2 separate regions of the Homo sapiens genome follow, and region 1 is linked to region 2. The links come from fine-mapping of genetic effects on gene expression. A gene starts in region 2. The other region holds a variant in brackets. All regions are shown on one strand. Distances are between the middles of the regions. Region 1 overlaps LHFPL6 (LHFPL tetraspan subfamily member 6). Region 2 holds the start of LHFPL6 (LHFPL tetraspan subfamily member 6).

What was found.
Region 1: its variant is fine-mapped to the expression of LHFPL6 in blood mononuclear cells (TOPMed, PIP above 0.99). The same link has a PIP of 0.9 or more in T cells, lymphoblastoid cells, monocytes and whole blood.

Annotation. Positions count from the first base shown.
Region 1 is chr13:39,411,508-39,419,507 of GRCh38, reverse strand. The region is part of intron 2 of LHFPL6 (LHFPL tetraspan subfamily member 6); the gene reads left to right. Among named protein-coding and RNA genes, the nearest start is that of LHFPL6, 190 kb to the left of the region's middle. RefSeq lists an enhancer at 1,523-2,465. The variant A/G (reference allele first, on the strand shown) is at 4,932.
Region 2 is chr13:39,599,358-39,607,873 of GRCh38, reverse strand. It overlaps LHFPL6 (LHFPL tetraspan subfamily member 6), which reads left to right and starts at 4,681. Exons shown (of 4, transcript NM_005780.3): 1 at 4,681-4,991; 2 at 6,484-7,042. The coding sequence starts at 6,658. It overlaps LOC112268119 (protein SPT2 homolog), which reads right to left and starts at 6,550. Exons shown (of 4, transcript XM_035861111.2): 1 at 6,481-6,550; 2 at 5,334-5,424; 3 at 4,232-5,230. The coding sequence starts at 6,550. RefSeq lists a silencer at 4,487-4,786.

The DNA.
Region 1 (8,000 bases), 190 kb after region 2:
GACATTTATTGGTTATAAAGCTTTTCACTTTTTGTTTCCTTACTTATCCAGAGAAGAGGATGGGAATACCAAATATGTTTTGAAACCATTTCATCCAAAGCTGGCTGGAAATGTTTCTCTTTTTCTTTGTTCAATGATAGGTAAAACACTGTAACTTTAGAGCACTGTGATCACATTAGTGACATCAGCTTAAACTTAGGGACTAGGGAGAGATGAAGGAATTGTAGTTGTATTTCACAAGAAGTCCAGAGTAGAGAAACAACTCATTATTTGCCATTTTTTTCACATCTAAAAGTGTTCTCTTTCATAAGCAAGATTGGGGTCAGGACAAAAGGGAGTGCAGCCTGTTCTGGGTTTTGTTGAAGCTGTCTCCAGAAGCTAAGTAGATGGACTGGTACAGCCCACATTTGAAATGTAGACTGATTCACCTACTTACTAATTGGGAAGCTAAATCCATGCCCTAACCATTTCTTAAAAAATAAATATTATAAAATAAAATAAGGAAAACATTACTGAAACGTTTAAGGAAGGTGAATCTGTGGAATCTGTATTCTGATCATTGGGCAGCAATATTTGTGTATCACTAAACATTACACCCATTTCCCACCTTTATCTCCCAGGCAGCTCAGGATGAATGGGATTCTTTACATGCTGTAAAGTCGGCAAGGCTGTTTGGTCACAGCAGAAATTTCATGTTAATGCCAAAGATTACTAGAGTAGAAGATAGGAAAGGCAAAGCTGTTTAATTTTGTCAAAGATAAGACAATATTGTGAGGTTTCTGTGACTGAATCAGATATTGTATTTTATAAATGAAGAAAATGCACAACCGCTATTGGGAGCTTCAAGGAATTCTGCTTTAATGAGGGGCCTTGCCGATCTTTATCATTTAAAGTGGATGATAATCTTTAGGGGCTGCACACATTCAAGCTGACATTCTCTTCCACCCTACTTTTAATATGCAGCTTTTACTTCCCCCAGACGCTACTTGCATTGTTAGGAGATTTCTGGATAAAATGTACATAAGTCTGTTAAAAATAAGGGAGTAAGAGAAAAGTTAGACATGGCCAATTCCTTTTACTCAGATTTTAGTTATATGGCATTCTGGAAAAAAAAAAAAAAAAAAAGACCAAAAAAACTTTACCCTTTAAAAAAAAATCTTATTTTAGGAATCAGAGCATACTTCTAGGCAATCATTTCATTTTGAATCTATTATATTCCATTTGTTCTTTAAGTTCATTGAATATTTAAAAATCCCTGCAGCATTTTTTTCAAATCCCATGTAAAGAATTAGCAGCTAATTTGGCATACTACAGTATTCATAAGATAAAATATGTAAGTAAGATTGACCAGGACTTACTTGTTTATTTCATGCATTCATTTATTTTACCAGGACAGGGTGGGAGTGGGATGGTGGAGTGGGAAGAGTAGATGTGGGGTTTGTTTGGTTTTGTTTTAATTTGGGCTTATCTTAGAAGATGTGAAATGCCTTGTTTTGATGCAGATCTGTCTGTGGATTGGGTGCTAGGACACAAGACTAACACTCTTTCTCTCCCCACATAATGCTCTAAATCTTGCAACAATACTGACTCAATGACTTCAAATCCCATGCTCCTTTCTTCCTTTCTTTCGCTTTCTAAACATGTTTGTGTTATGAATCATACTCAGACACAGGGCCCATTTGATGGCTGGGGCTGGGTCTCCTTGTCACCACCCCAGTCAATTGGAATGCAGCCCACAAAGTCGCCCCTGCCCCGGCCCAGGAGCTCCGCCTGGCTGGGTGAGTTCATTGATGTGCTGAATATCACAAAGACTTAATTCTGTGCTGAAAGGTTAAAAAGAAGCGGGGAGGGGAAAGAAGAGAGGAATAAAGATGAGGTCCGTGGAGAATGGTTAATTCAGCTAATGAATTTTTGCAGAATGGCTAACAAGGAAGAATTTTGCTTAAGGAAAATTGGTCCTTGATGTGACTCCTTCCCTCCGTCTCTTTTGCCTTTTGAGCGGGTGGAAAGTTAGAGGAGCTGTTAGTTAAATGACAGAGGGAAATAGAAAGATGTATTTTCAAAAGGCAAAACAAAAACTACCACTTTGGCTTCCAATTCATGCTTTGAGGAATGTCAGCTTCTCACAGCGTTGCTCCGGCCGCCCCTGCCCCATTTAATATTATGCAGCTGGTGTGACCTAATTTAGCCTCTGGGGGCACCCAAGTCAGAGCAGTTGAGGGCTTCACACAGATTCTTCTGCAACATGTCTGTTAACCAACAGTGCCTTTGGGAAAAAGCTTGGGTAGTTAGTCTTTTTGGTAGAGTCCAGTCCTGTCCTGTTTCAAGAGGGATATGAATAAGGCAGGATGATTCCAAAGAAGAGAAAAGACACTGGACACTGGTAAGAAGTGTAATAAAAGCAACTTGGCCTATCCCACCTTTGTTTCTTCCTGGAGTTAAGAGGAGTCTCCCTACACCTTCGGGCTCTTCTAAACTTGGAATAACCTAAATGTATCGGCAGGCTAGAAGAAATCTGCAGATGACATTTTAAAACAAAAACATGTTCATGTTTAAGAAGAAAACCCTTATGTGATTGTACAAGATGTATTCATTATTCAAGTACCTGTGACAAATGTTCATATGCCTATGGTAGACAAGAAGATAAAAATAGGTGCTGGGACTAGCAGAACTCAGGTTTTAACAACTTTAGGAGGAAAATTTGATTTGCATGCCATTTACAAATTTTTTCTACCACCTCTGACATCAGAATTATAAATGTTTAAAAAACTGCACAATGACTTTATAACTTTCCTGTATTTGATTTATGTTCACACAAACTGTAAAAGAGAGAAAGCTAGCACTTTCTCTTTTCTCTTGCAATTACATACTGCATTCACACATTAAGTACATGAAACTGATACCACTGTTCTCCAGCTGCAGACTTTTGACTTTATTGCCCAAATATTCAGAGGTTGTATGGAAAAGGAGCTCAAGGTAGGGGAAGGGAAAAGGCATTTTATTCTCTACCTTTTTGTCCTTTAAACTGTATGATCAAAAGTATCATTGTGTGGCACCACAGTTGGGGAAAACATAGAGTAAATGAACTGGAGAATGAATTGGCCTAATATAATGGAGTTTCATGCCTCCTCTTTTTTTTTTTTAACATATTAAGGTTCATTCATTCAACAAACATGTGCTAAGCATCTGTAATATGTCTGGCATTGTTCTCAACCCTTGGGATACATTAATGAACAAAACAGATAAACATATCAGCCCTCCTTGGGTTTATATTCTAGGGCTTGATCATTGAGTCAATAGAACCTGATTCAAATTGTTCAGATTATTTTTCCCCACATAGTCTTACTACTCTTACTCTCATCAAAGACGTCAGTTCATATTAATTTTCTTTACCATTTCTGTTGCAATTTACATTTGCTCAGTACTCTAACTTCAGTCGTTACCCAAGGAGACTGCATAATCTCATTTCTTGGACATTTCTTCATTTCACATCCATTCTGTCATTATACACTTGCTATGGACAGAGAATCTAGGGGTGATGTCTGAAGGACCTTTCTAGTCCTGATTCTGCAAATATCTAAGCATCAAATGTCTACTCAAGGTAGGTAAGTATTGTTTTCTTTCTTTCTTCGTAATGTATTGAACAAAGTTCAAGGAGGCAAACTGGCTGCAAATGAGAAAGGCTTGAAAAGTGTCAAGGTTTAGACTTCTCACTTTGAATTCAGCACTGAGACTATGAAGCTTTGCTGCTTGTTGTATTTATTCTCCCATTCATTTATGCATTTATTAATCCTTCATCCAGTACACCTTCGGTTACTGCAAAACTATGAGCCAGACACTGCCCCAGCTGCCAAGGGGAGCAAAGATATGCCAGAAAGCCACTGCCCCCTGGAGTTCAGTCTGGTGGGGCACCGGGATGCTTCTTTGCAAGCACAGTTCTTAATTTCAATTCATGAAGGACTTAAGTGTTTCTTCAGCTTGCTTTTGTTTTTTGTTTTTTTTTTTTTCAGTATTTTTATGGCAAGCTGTCTTTGCCAGCAGAGGAATACACTATTAACATGTTGAACACAGACCTGAGTTCTTCCACATGTGCGTATGCATACACATGCATGTGCATACACATGCACAAAAATTTGTTTTTCCTCAACTTTGCTGAACTACTTTTCCTTCAGTTATCGGCTGAGGCAATATAGTAGTATGCAAGCTTTTCAGAAATCCAACGGGATTCATGCCCAGCTGAGTTATTTCACTCTGCGTTCTGTGTCAGTTCCTGGAAATTAACAATAGAGCATTTCACTTTGGTCTTTGATCCCACCAGCTCAGTCATGGTATTTTTCCAGATGTTTCCGTCTTAGGTTGCTATTACAAAAAAGCACAGCACAAGTTAAACTAGGACAAGTTGGCCTGTCCTGGGGTCTGAGGAATGTGTTTTCCACCAAATAAACTGGTCATGTGCCACAGACGGGTTAGAAAGGGAAACTCAGACTTTATAATCAGAGTGATCCTTTTCATTGTGTGTTTAGGAAAAAGTACCATGTCCACCCCCAGTAATTTGACTCAAGACCCTGTAGCTTCTCAAAGACATTGATTTGGCCTGGTTCTAGTAAAAATGATTTGTGTTTTGAAATAAGTTACCATGCTATTTTCTCTCAGGTTAATTTACCCTAGCCTGTATAATACTCTTAGGGGTCTAAATGCCAACAGGCATAGGAAAAAACCTCAGTTGCCAGTAATTATATCATTTAGGTGGTTGGGCAGAGATAAGACAAATAATTGGTGTTATCATGCCTTCTATCCAAGTTTTGTAAGCAAGAATTTCATAGCATGTTTTAACACAAATGGCAAAAAAAATAAGCCCACAGCAGCTTGAAGCATTATATGTGAAATTTACTAAACTAGAAATAAGAAGAAGAAGTGAAAACAGTACCCCA[A/G]GAAAGTCCCAGAAGACTGATAACACCAAATGCAGGGGCCCTTGCTCTACCTCAACTCCAGCCCAAATCCACCATGAAGACTCCCTCAGTTGTCCTGAAACACATGCCCTGAAGCATAATGTGGTATTATAAAATAAATTTCCTGAAAAATGACAAGATAAGCTTCTAATGAACTGTGGCTAAAATCTGATACTGGAAAGAGGAAGATGGAAGATGGAATTAGGAAGATGTTGTGTGAATGTTGACACATATTCTCACAGCTAATGCTTATTTTATTAAGCATTTCTCATTTGGTTTGTGCTACTACTAACTCATAACATTATTTATTGAGCTTGATTTCCAAATAGGTAATATCTTTCTAAATGCTTTTATACCCTGTGATCTGGCAATTTCACCCCTCCATATAGTCCATACAAAAATGTATAGATATGTGAATGAAACGGCATATGAGAATGTTCCCAGAATTATTTTTTTGAGCAATCAAACACTGGAAATTGTCCAAATGCCTATGAACAGTAGAGTGGATAAATTGTGGTATATTCACATAATGAAATGCTATGCAGCAATGAAAATAAACCAATTCTAATTATACTCATCACTATGGATGAGTCTCGTAAACATAAATTTGAGTCAAAGAAGCCATAGCAAAAGAGTCCATAATTTATGATTCCATTTATTTAAGTACAAAGAGAGGCAAAACCAATCTATTTTGTCAGGAGGTAGGATAACCCTTGGGAAGGGGTGGTGATTAAAAAGGAATAGAAGGAAGGCTACTGGGGTGCTGGTTGATTCTTTTTAATGTTTGTAAAGTTTACATGGTGTCTTCAGCTTATGAAAATTCCTTGAGCTCTGACCTTATATGTACACTTGTCAATATGCATGTTAGAGTTTAATACACTTGTGCAAATGCAAACATATGTTCACTTATTAAAGACAGCAACACAACAGAAAAATTCATTTAAAACTTACTTAAAGAAAAAAAAAAAAAAAACTAGTCGGTTGTGATGACACACGCCTGTAGTCCCAGATACACAGGAGGTTGAGGCAGGAGGATCTCTTGAGCAGAGAGGTTGAGGCCAGCCTGGGCAACATAGTGAGACCCACCCCCCCTACCCCCAATTCCTAAAAAAAAAAAAAAAAAATCCTGAGTAGTTTCGGGTTTGACATTTAAATAAGAACATAATTTACGAATATTTTAATCTTATTTTCCTACTTTAAAGATTAGGATATTTTCCTGAGTACATATCAATGTGGATACATTTCATAGTTATTATTTGACCACAGGCTCTGAAGAATTGGCATAAAATATTGCATAATACAAGTATGTTAAATTGGATTAAAATGAATAACAAATGCTATTTTTCCTTCGTTAAATATTCCAGATTTCTTTGATTAGATATCATCTCTCCCTCTTTTGAAAGTCCACAATATGTTGTATTTCACTTAGCGATGCATATATTGTACTACTTTGTATTATGTCTAATTTTATAAACTCCTTGGGGTAGAGTTAGGGCTCGTTCATCTTTGAATCTACTGTGATATCTGCAGAAGGCAGGTGTAATATAGTGAAGATGTTAAGAGAGTGCCTACTGGTGCTAGACATGGGTTCAGGTTCCCTTGCTGCCATTTACAATTTTTTTCTTTTTTTTTTTTTGAGACGGGAGTATTGCTCTGTTGACCAGGCTGGAGTGCAATGGTGCAATCTCGGCTCACTGCAACCTCCGCCTCCCGGGTTCGAGCAGTTCTCTGCCTCAGCCTCCCGAGTAGCTGGGATTACAGGAGCCCGCCACCACACCTGGCTAATTTTTTAATTTTTAGTAGGGACAGGGTTTCACAATCTTGGCCAGGCTGGTCTTGAATTCCTGACCTCGTGATCCACCCGCCTTGGCCTCCCAAAGTGCTGGGATTACAGGCGTGAGCCACTGCACCTGGCCTACAATTTGTATAAATTTGGGGAAGTAGTCTCTCTGTACTTCAGTTTCTTCTTTATAAAATGGGAACAATTGTGGCATCTGCCTCTTAATGTTGTGAAATTAATCAATCGCCAGAAAGCTCTGAGGACAGTTCCCAAAACATAGTTAGTTCTCAAGAATTGCTAGCTGCTATTTTTAGGCATGGTAGTATAATTAAGATTCCTGCTGTGATTCCTGAATGAGAAAAAGAAAAGAAAAAAATTAGAAAGACTTAGAAGTAGTGGTCAGTCAAAAGTCATATGTAAAAATCTAAAATTGCTTGGTAAAATTTCTGTCTGCTAATTCCCCAATACAATTTTTTTCTCAAATGTTCTTCAAATAAAGTGCACTGATCATTTATAGTTGAATATTTTCAAAGTGTTCTAAATCAGTCTGGTCATAAACAATTACTAGATTATTTCTTGTAAGTATCGATAGTCTCCTGATTCAGTTAGGTAGGTGGGACCATGGTAATAAATAGACCTAAAAATGTATAACGGTTGAAACACGGTAAAAGTTTATTTCTAGCTCACATTACAGCCCAAGTAGATATTACCAGTCAGCTTCCATATGATGATTCAAGAATCCAGGTTCTATTGATAGGTATACCATCCCCTAAGTCTCTTCTAATACTTATGTCCCACAGAAGTGAAAGAGAGTATGGGAAGCTGTATCCATCTACTTCTTAAAAGCCATGATGAGAAACAGCACACATCACTTACTCCCATATTCCTTAGCTAGATTTCACTTAATGGCCACATCCCACTGAAGAGACACTGGGAAATACAGTTTAAGTATGTGCCTCAGAAGGAGAAATTGAATTTTGTAAATAGCTGGCAGTGCTTGTCATTATTTAGAGGTAGGCAAGGGCTATAGTTCTACTTCCCGACAATTCCATTGCAAATACAGAAGCATACTCATAACATTCCCACACAGATATGTCATAGCAATCAGGCCCCAGTAATCATAGCGCCTTTTCTGAAGCTCATGAAAGTCCCAGGTCTCTGTCCCTGTAGGTGCTTCAATCACAGCTGATATGAAAGGGTCCTCGTGAGATAAACACAACACTATTATAAGGGCAGGACTTGGTTAAGCTTAGAGAAGGAATAAGGCAACC
Region 2 (8,516 bases):
AGATCCCATAGATTGAGGCCTCGGTCCCCAAGACTGCCCCTGTCACCCCACATCAGTCACAAGTCTGGGCCTTCAGAACTTCTGACAAACTGGCTTCAAATTGGGGTTTGCATGACCCCTTCTTTGGGTTCAATTAATTTCCTGGAGCAGCTCACAGAACTCAGGGAAACACTTATGTTTACCAGTTTATTATAAAAGGATATTACAAAGGAAACAGATGAAGAGATGCACAGGGCGAGGTATGGGGAAAAGGGTGTGGAGCTTCCATGCCTTCCTGGGGCACACCATCCTCCAGGAACTTCCAGTCCTCTTGGTTTTGTTTTGTTTTGTTTTGTTTTTGAGATGGAGTCTGGCTCTGTAGCCCAGACGGGAGTGCAGTGGTGCGATTTGGCTCACTGCAACCTCCGCCTCTTGGGTTCAAGCTATTCTCCTGCCTTAGCCTCCTGAGTAGCTGGGACTACAGGTGCACACCACCACACCCAGCTAAGTTTTGTATTTTTAGTGGAGATGGGGTTTCACCATGTTGGCCAGCCTGGCCTTGAACTCCTGACCTCAGGTGATCTGCCCACCTTGGCCTCCCAAAGTGCTGAGATGACAGGTGTGAGCCACCACGCCAGCCCTCTTGAGTTTTTTTGTTTGTTTGTTTGTTTGTTTTTGAGACAGAGTTTCACTCTTGTTGCCCAGGCTGGAGTGCAATGCTTGGTCTTGAACTCCTGACCTCAGGTGATCCACCCGCCTCGGCCTCCCAAAGTGCTGGGATTACAGGTGTGAGCCACCATGCCAAGCCTGCCCTCTTGGGTTTTTATGGAAGCTTCATGATGTCACCATTGCTTTCCTCAGGATATGGGGTGGGTCCCTCTCAGGGGAGGGTCCTAAGACCCACAGTCAGAAAGGAGGGGGAAAGATTAGAGTACTGCCTTGGGGCAGGTGAAAGGAGAGCAGAAGCAGGTTAGAGAGGTTCTGTTTCTTGAGGTCTGTTCCTGAGGCCTAACATACCCAACACTGTAACAAAATACTGTAACAAGGGCTATGGGTGTTGGGAGCTAGGAACTGTAGACAAAAATTAATATATATCATAACACACACATCGCCCCTCAAATTTCAAGGGAGGCTAGGACGTGGAGATTTTAGCTTTCACTGCTTTCGTAGGAGATAACAATGTAAAAGAAGTGAGTTGGAAATGATATCAGCCAAACTGTAGTGTTTGCCACAATTGTGGACAGACTAAATCCCTTTCCAATCTCTCTCTGGTAGTCAGAAGTGATTGATTTCATTATGTTCTCGATATTTCATTATCATGCTCCTTCCCTAATTTCACATAGCATACCATTTGTTTAAAAATTAAATACCCACTCTGTAGGCTGCATTAGAACAAGGATAGTAATCACGATGATATTGATTTGTTCATTAAATCCCACAATTACTGTTTGATTATTGAGTATCTGTCTACATTGCCAAGCACTGAGATACAATGTTCACTGATGTATATTTCCTCTCATTGAAAATGTCTTATCTATACCATGCTTTATCAATTAGGAATGCTTTTAGCTACTAAAAGGAGAAAATTCAACTCATAGTGATTTAAACCATATTAAAAATCTATAATTTACTTTTTAAATAATTCAAATGGAGGTGAGAAGCTCTACAATGTTAGATCACTGGGAGTATGTCTCTGTGACCCCCCACCTGGTTACAAGAAGGCTGCTAGAGCTCTAAACACCTTCAAGAATGTGCCCGAAGACAGTCATGATGGTGAGAGAACTATTCTCTCACGTCTCCTTATTTTATCAGAGAATACAATCTTCCCCAGAGGCCTCCTTAGCAAACTCATTGGCTACAGCAGGATCAAGTGGCCATTACTTGCTTTAAGGGATGCTAGAAGAGTATCTGGTGAGAAGGGAGAGGGGATTGTGAATTAATACTGGGTAGCCAACCAAGAGTGTTGTCATAAACACTTTATAGCTTTCCATATACTGTCGCATTCATGATCTCATCTTGTGACTCAATGAGACTACTATCCAAACATACTGGAAACCCAAACCTGGAATAGGTGTTATAAGTGGCATCTGCTATGTGGGAACTTCTGGCTGTGAAGTAATTTAATGGTCCTTTAAAGGTACAAATTTAATGCAAAGGGGCTTAAATAAATTATAATGCATTTTGCTTACAAAGTGTGCATGGAAGAACATAAGGAGTAATTCAGAAGATATTATAGTTTAGTAAGATAATTAGAAAGAGAAATCAAGATATGTGGATTATAGCCTCAGCTTTGGGTAAGACACTGGAAGAATTTCGAGCCTCTGTTTTGTCAGCTGTAAAATTACATACTTGAACAAGATTAGATGATCTCTAAATTCCTTCTCAAAGATAAGAGGACCCATATAACCATGATGCTGGAAGTTGTGAGCTTAAAAAAAATTAAAATAACCTATTTCAATCTCTTTTTAACAATGAGATAACTTAGGGCTTGGGAAGATCACCATTTGTCTGAATTCACTTATTTAAGTTAGAAATTTGAGTCCCAGTATTATACTTTCACAAATAATTGATATTGCATCCTGAAAGATTTTTAAAAATTTGGCCTCTTCTGTCATTTTTTTTTTCATTTTAGGCAGAATCTCTGTGATAGCATTTACTCTGCTTAAGAGAGTGCAAATAATGAGATTTTTTTAAAAGTCATTTTTTAGCTGTAAATTTTTGGGCAAATTACTTCTTATCCTTGCGGTAAAATAATAATTATTCCTTCTTCATAATTTTTCTTTTCTTTTTTGAGGACTGGATAAGTAATCTATTAAGGGACCTTAATGTACTAACACACAGCAAGGAGTCAATCTGTAGTAACCATGATTATCATTAATATGTCTCCAGCCAGCACTTGCGCTTAAGCTTTCTCACACTTAAGAAAGTGTTTGAGAGCAATTTCCCCTGCAGGTTGTACGGAGGTGACTCCGATTCTCACTATTATTCTTTTGTCTTTTATGATCATATCTTCCACCATCATATTATATAGGTATGAAGGCTCTGTGTAATAACTAAGGGTGTGGTACCTAACTGGAAGTCAGACCAATCATTCTTATGCTGTCACTGAAACCAGTAACCGGTGATTTGTAAGAGAAGAGTTAAAACAACTTAAACTCAACAACAACACCAAAAACAAAAACACTTAAATTGGGGATTCTGAATATGGGATTCATGGATGGGCTTTAAGGGAATGGGAAACCACCTGATATTTCATTCAAATGATTGACATTTTGGCCCAGGTAATTTTGGGGACTGTCCTGTGCACTGTATTTAGCAGAATCTCGGGTCTTTACCAACTAGATGCCAGTAATACTCCCCATTCATGGGTTATGATAATCAAAATTATCTTCAGACCTTGCCAAATATCCCTTTCCTTCTTCAGAATCGCTGTGGTAAAGCTTTATATGTCCGCGCATTTTTTTTTCTGGAAGGCTTATCAGTTTCATCGTATTTTTTAAAAGACCTGTGACCTCAAAAGGCTTGGAATCAATCACTTAAGGTCTTTCAAAATAATAATAAAAGAACACATATCTCCAGCTGTCGTTGTGGGAAAAATGTACACCATCACGGCTAATTAAAATGGTGCAGTCTGAAAATCTGCTATGAAATATATACCTACCAATTTATTACTTTCAACTCCTCTAAAAAGACACCTCACAAAAACTATATCTGGGAAACTGTCTACTTCAAAAACTGCTGTTCCCAGATGGCATACTTCTTAAAATACTGTGTTCAGCAGAGACTCCCACAGTCATCTACTGAATCTAGCTCTAAACTTCTAAAGGGGTTAGTGCTAATGACAAGTGGAAAAAGTCCTCAAGTCCAGAGGGGAACTAAAAATCAGTTGTTTCTCAGAAAAGAAATCAAACGATGGAATAAATTGCAAAATTGATCAGGAGGCAGGATGGAGGAGAAGGGAGGGAGGAAGTGAAGGGAAAGGGAGGGAGGGAGGGAGAGAGAGACAGAGAAACAGCAAGAGAGAGAGAGAGAGACCTTTGAAAGAGTGTATCTCTTGGGAGAGGCTCGCTAGAGGTCCGCCCCTGCCTTCTCCCTGGCTCGTCTGGAAAGGCAGCTGCCCCCATGCCATACATGAGCCTTGGGCTGTCTGCTGTGCTTTAATTCCCACGTCCACAACCGCCTCATTCACCGCCTTCCAAAGTGACCACTTCTCAAAAGCCTCCTCAAATCTCAAAGGGGCCACTTTACCCACTCTTTAAGGCCCTCTTTCCCGTCTACGGCTTCTTTTAACGGCGGCAGGAAAACAGGAGCATAAACCCGAACAGTAAACCCAGAAAAGCCCCAACAGGCAAAGTGTGTCATCTTCCGTGGCTCCTCGGGGTCACCCAGGAAGACAAGCAACTTTCTCCCATACTTCTCGGTCTGTCTGCCTTCCCCACTCAGCTTTGAATGAGACGCAGGGAGAGGGGGCGCGAGGGGGCTCGGGGCTAGGGGAGGAGCCGCGAAAGCTGCCCCCGGGGGTGGGCCTGGACCCGCGCGGACAGCGGGGCACCCCCCCACTCCCTTCCCGGCGCTCCAGGAACGTCCCCGGTGCGTCCTGGGTCTGTCTGCGCGGAGTTCCCCGGGGCGCGAGGGGAGGGGACTGGAGAAAGAGGAGGGCCGGGCAGCGGAGGGGAGGAGGCGGTGCGTGCCTCGCCTGCCAAAGGGAGATCCGCTCCTCTGCGTGCGATCCCCGGCGCCCGCGCGCGCCCACAGCGCTCCGCCAGAGCTGCCGCCGCGGACTCGCCGGGAGTGGGGGTCTCCGCTGGTGCCAGCCCGCTTCTGGAGACCCTCCGCCTCCTGCCAACCCCTGCTCTTCCAGGTCGGGCCCCGGGGTTCTGCGGCTGTTAGGGACAGAGGCAAAGAAGGGCAGGACGGTCCGGTTTCCCGTGGATGTTCCCGCCCGAGAAAGACAGCAAGTTGTGTGTGCGCCCGGGACGCGGGAGGGAAGGTGGCCGCCGCCCGCCAGCCATGTAAGTAAATCACTCGGCTGCCCCGTGGGCGTGGGCTCCGCTGCTTTCTCCCGGGCTCCCTCTCTGCCCCGGAGCCGGAGTTGGGCTGCTCCCGGGCTCCGGACTTCCTGAGCTCGGCGGATCCGTCGGCTCTGCCTGCCAGCCGCGTCCGCTCTTGGCGTCTGCCTCCGGGGGGTGCTGCCTTCCCATCCTTATCCCCTCCCTTCGTCCAGAGCCGGCTGGAAAATGCCTCTTGCCCCCTTTTAGAATGGAGGGATCATTGTGTGTCTCCATGGGTGGAGTGGCTCGGTGAGGCAATGGCAGGGGGCTAAATATGGGCTTGTCTTGGCGAGGGCGCCTCACCGCAGTTGGAGATGGGGGCCCCCTGCCCGCAGGCCACCCCCTGCTGGTCTTCCCCAGCCTCGTGGCCCAGATAGATCAACTTCAGCCCTGACTGCAGTTGACAAGATTAGAAAAAAAAGTAGTAGCCGACCTCCCGTTTGAGTGACATCCAGAACTGAAAATGGGCGGTGGTTAGAGAAAAAAACGGGTAGGGGCGAGGTGAAGAAAGGGGGAAATTTGCTATGGACCCTGAAAGCTGGAGTTAGGGGTCCTGGGGGTGGAATTCTAGGGTGGATGGGCTCTGTGCTTCTGTATTCATTTCTTTATGGAAAGTGTGAGAAATGGTTAAGGAACTCTTTTTGAAAGGCTGGGGTGGAAGTAGATGCCCCTGGAACCATTTGGATGACTGGGGTTTGATGTAGCATACTGGGAAGTATGGATTGCTGTTCAAATTAGACAATCATTCAGTGGGAGAAATGATTGCAATAGAACTGTTGGAATCAATGAATCAAAACTGCAGACTCAAAATAAGTCATACACAGGCATTCTTTTACACTAGAAGATGTTAAGACTAAAGAAATTCTGAAATGCTGCTGAATGAGTACAAAGAGTGTCTGGTAATAGTTCTGTACTGTGGGTGCCTCCGCAGACCATAATGCTTGTTAAATTTATGGTACTCTGCAATTGTGAAAAATTATCCTAATTAGTTTGTTTGGCTCATGCAGAGAGTTAATGCACCCTTAAAGGGACATAGAAAAGTTGCAACAAACTATGAGCATGAACTTGCAAGCCAAAAAATGGAAATCATGGCATGGTTCATTTTATTTTAATTGTTTATTGCCCAGTGAAAGTGCTACATTACTTTTAATGTGAGTATATAATATATAGAATGAATTCATTGGCCTGTCAAATAAAAATCGGGCGTTTCTTTAAGTAAATAGCTGTCAGAGTTAATTTGGAAATATTTACGGAAGATAAAGACATGAAAAAGCTTTGAGCTGGTTTGACAAAAATCGAGTTATGAAGCTCATAGAGAGAATTAGTTCTTCCCACTTTTAAAGTGTTGAGGCAAGTCTCAATGTTTATTAATTGAAAATTGTAGACTAGCTGAAACAGTGTTATCACTTCTTTTAATGCCTTTAATTTTTAATGTTTCCTGTTGTTTTACCAGGGACCATCATCTTTAGTGCAGAGGATGGAAAGTTGATGCCCAGTAAGACTGAAGATCCATTCTGCATTACGGAACTGTGGATTATCTGTGGGTCCCTGGTGATTTCACACCTTCATTCACTCCTGCAGTCCCTGAACACTTACTTGGGGTCCTCATTGCCCTATCTGGTGAAAGATGGCATCCAGCCTGACTTGTACTGGAGTAATCTGGGCTTTGCTGTCTTTTCTTTGTGCTGCCACCTCCTGCGTGGGGTTCTTTATGCCTTACTGGCTCTGGGGATCACAGCTGGGCAAGCCTGTGTCCTTCGGTACCTTCCGGAGGTGCTCATATCCTGTGCATGATGAGAGTCGGCAGATGATGGTGATGGTGGAGGAATGTGGGCGCTATGCCTCCTTCCAGGGCATCCCCAGCGCAGAATGGAGGATCTGCACCATAGTGACCGGCCTGGGTTGTGGCCTCCTCCTCCTGGTGGCGCTCACTGCCCTCATGGGTTGCTGTGTTTCCGACCTCATCTCCAGGACAGTGGGAAGAGTGGCTGGAGGAATTCAGTTTCTTGGGGGTAAGTGACTTGCTGAGCTTGAGTTGTTTACTGGAATCCCAAAGCAGTATTAAAAGTTATGTTTCAGTTGTCTACTGAGATTATTATAAATGACACCTGGAATGCATAAGAGAAATAGATTTGGAATGGCTTTGATGATAGGTTGCCAAAGTCAAGATTATTGTCAGAATTGCTGCTTTACAACTTCAAGAGTTCTTAATTTCTGTACATATACATCACTGGCCTGCTAAGTGCCACCTATGTGAAACAGTAACATCTAGGTTGTTTGAGGTGTAGTAGGGGCGACAGTTTGGATTTTATAGCTTCTTGTTCGTTATGTTAAACAATAGACAATTAGATTATCTTTGTCTTCATGGAATCCTCGGGTCTTTAAAGGTAAAGATTTCACAGAAAAGTGGAAAAGGTTTTTGATTCAACATTGTTATCATGAACCTCTAATACACTTTGGTGGATGCAAAATTTACTCTTGCCCAATCTTAAACTCTATTTCTAAATAAATGTTAACTATTTTAAATGAGAGATCAGTTTTATATAACAACTATGAACTTAACTATTCTACAGAGATAGCTATCCACTTAATTACCTTGTTAGGTCTTAACTTTCCTGGGTGCTCTTGCTGTGGAAAAAAAGAAAAGGGATATTTAGCAAATGATGTGTGCTTGTCCCAGATGGACTGGATAGTTTCACTAACGCCAGAAAAGGTTTGATTTTTACTTGGATTCCCTCCAGCAAGTATTGCTTCAATATCTTTGGTCATATGGTTTTAATTGTACTTTATGTATTTTCCACTGTGCTTTTCACCTCCATTCTTCAACCTGACTGGCTGAACTTGTCTGATTTACAGTCCACCCTGGTGAAATATGACAACCTCCATAGATAGTGCAGAGTGAAGGGAAATAGGAAGCCTGGAAAACTTATACAATGTATTTGGAACTTCATTACAAAGTAAAGGTCTGTTACTCCCTCATTTGGTGTTTTCTTACAGTCTTTTGTGAAGAATCCAGAAGAAGAAAAATGAATTAAAAATGAGTAGTTGTGAGACAGTCTCCCCATATTAGAGAACCCCAATGGATTATTTCAGAGTATTTAATATAAAACTTTCAAGTAACATTTTCAGTAAAGTTTAATTCTTGTGCTGAAAATGCAAGTGGCAAAGTTTTGTGTTTTGAAATGAGATAGAAAGTTTTGTTTTAAAGTGAGATAGAATTGTCCATTCTTTCCTTACTGATGTAACTTTGTTCTCATTTGGGTTTTTTCCCATTGGGTTTGCACCTTAGTCCCTCCCGGGAGGCAGTGTGGGGGACCTACCTGTCATCTCTTTACAGCTTCAATGTTTAACACTGACAAAAGTCTTGCATGTGATATGTATATTTACACAGGTATGTACTTAAAACTATTAGGAAACCTAAAGAAGTTGTCATTGAAAGTGGAAATGTAAATTCAGAGTTTGAAAACTTACAAATTTTAAGAATAG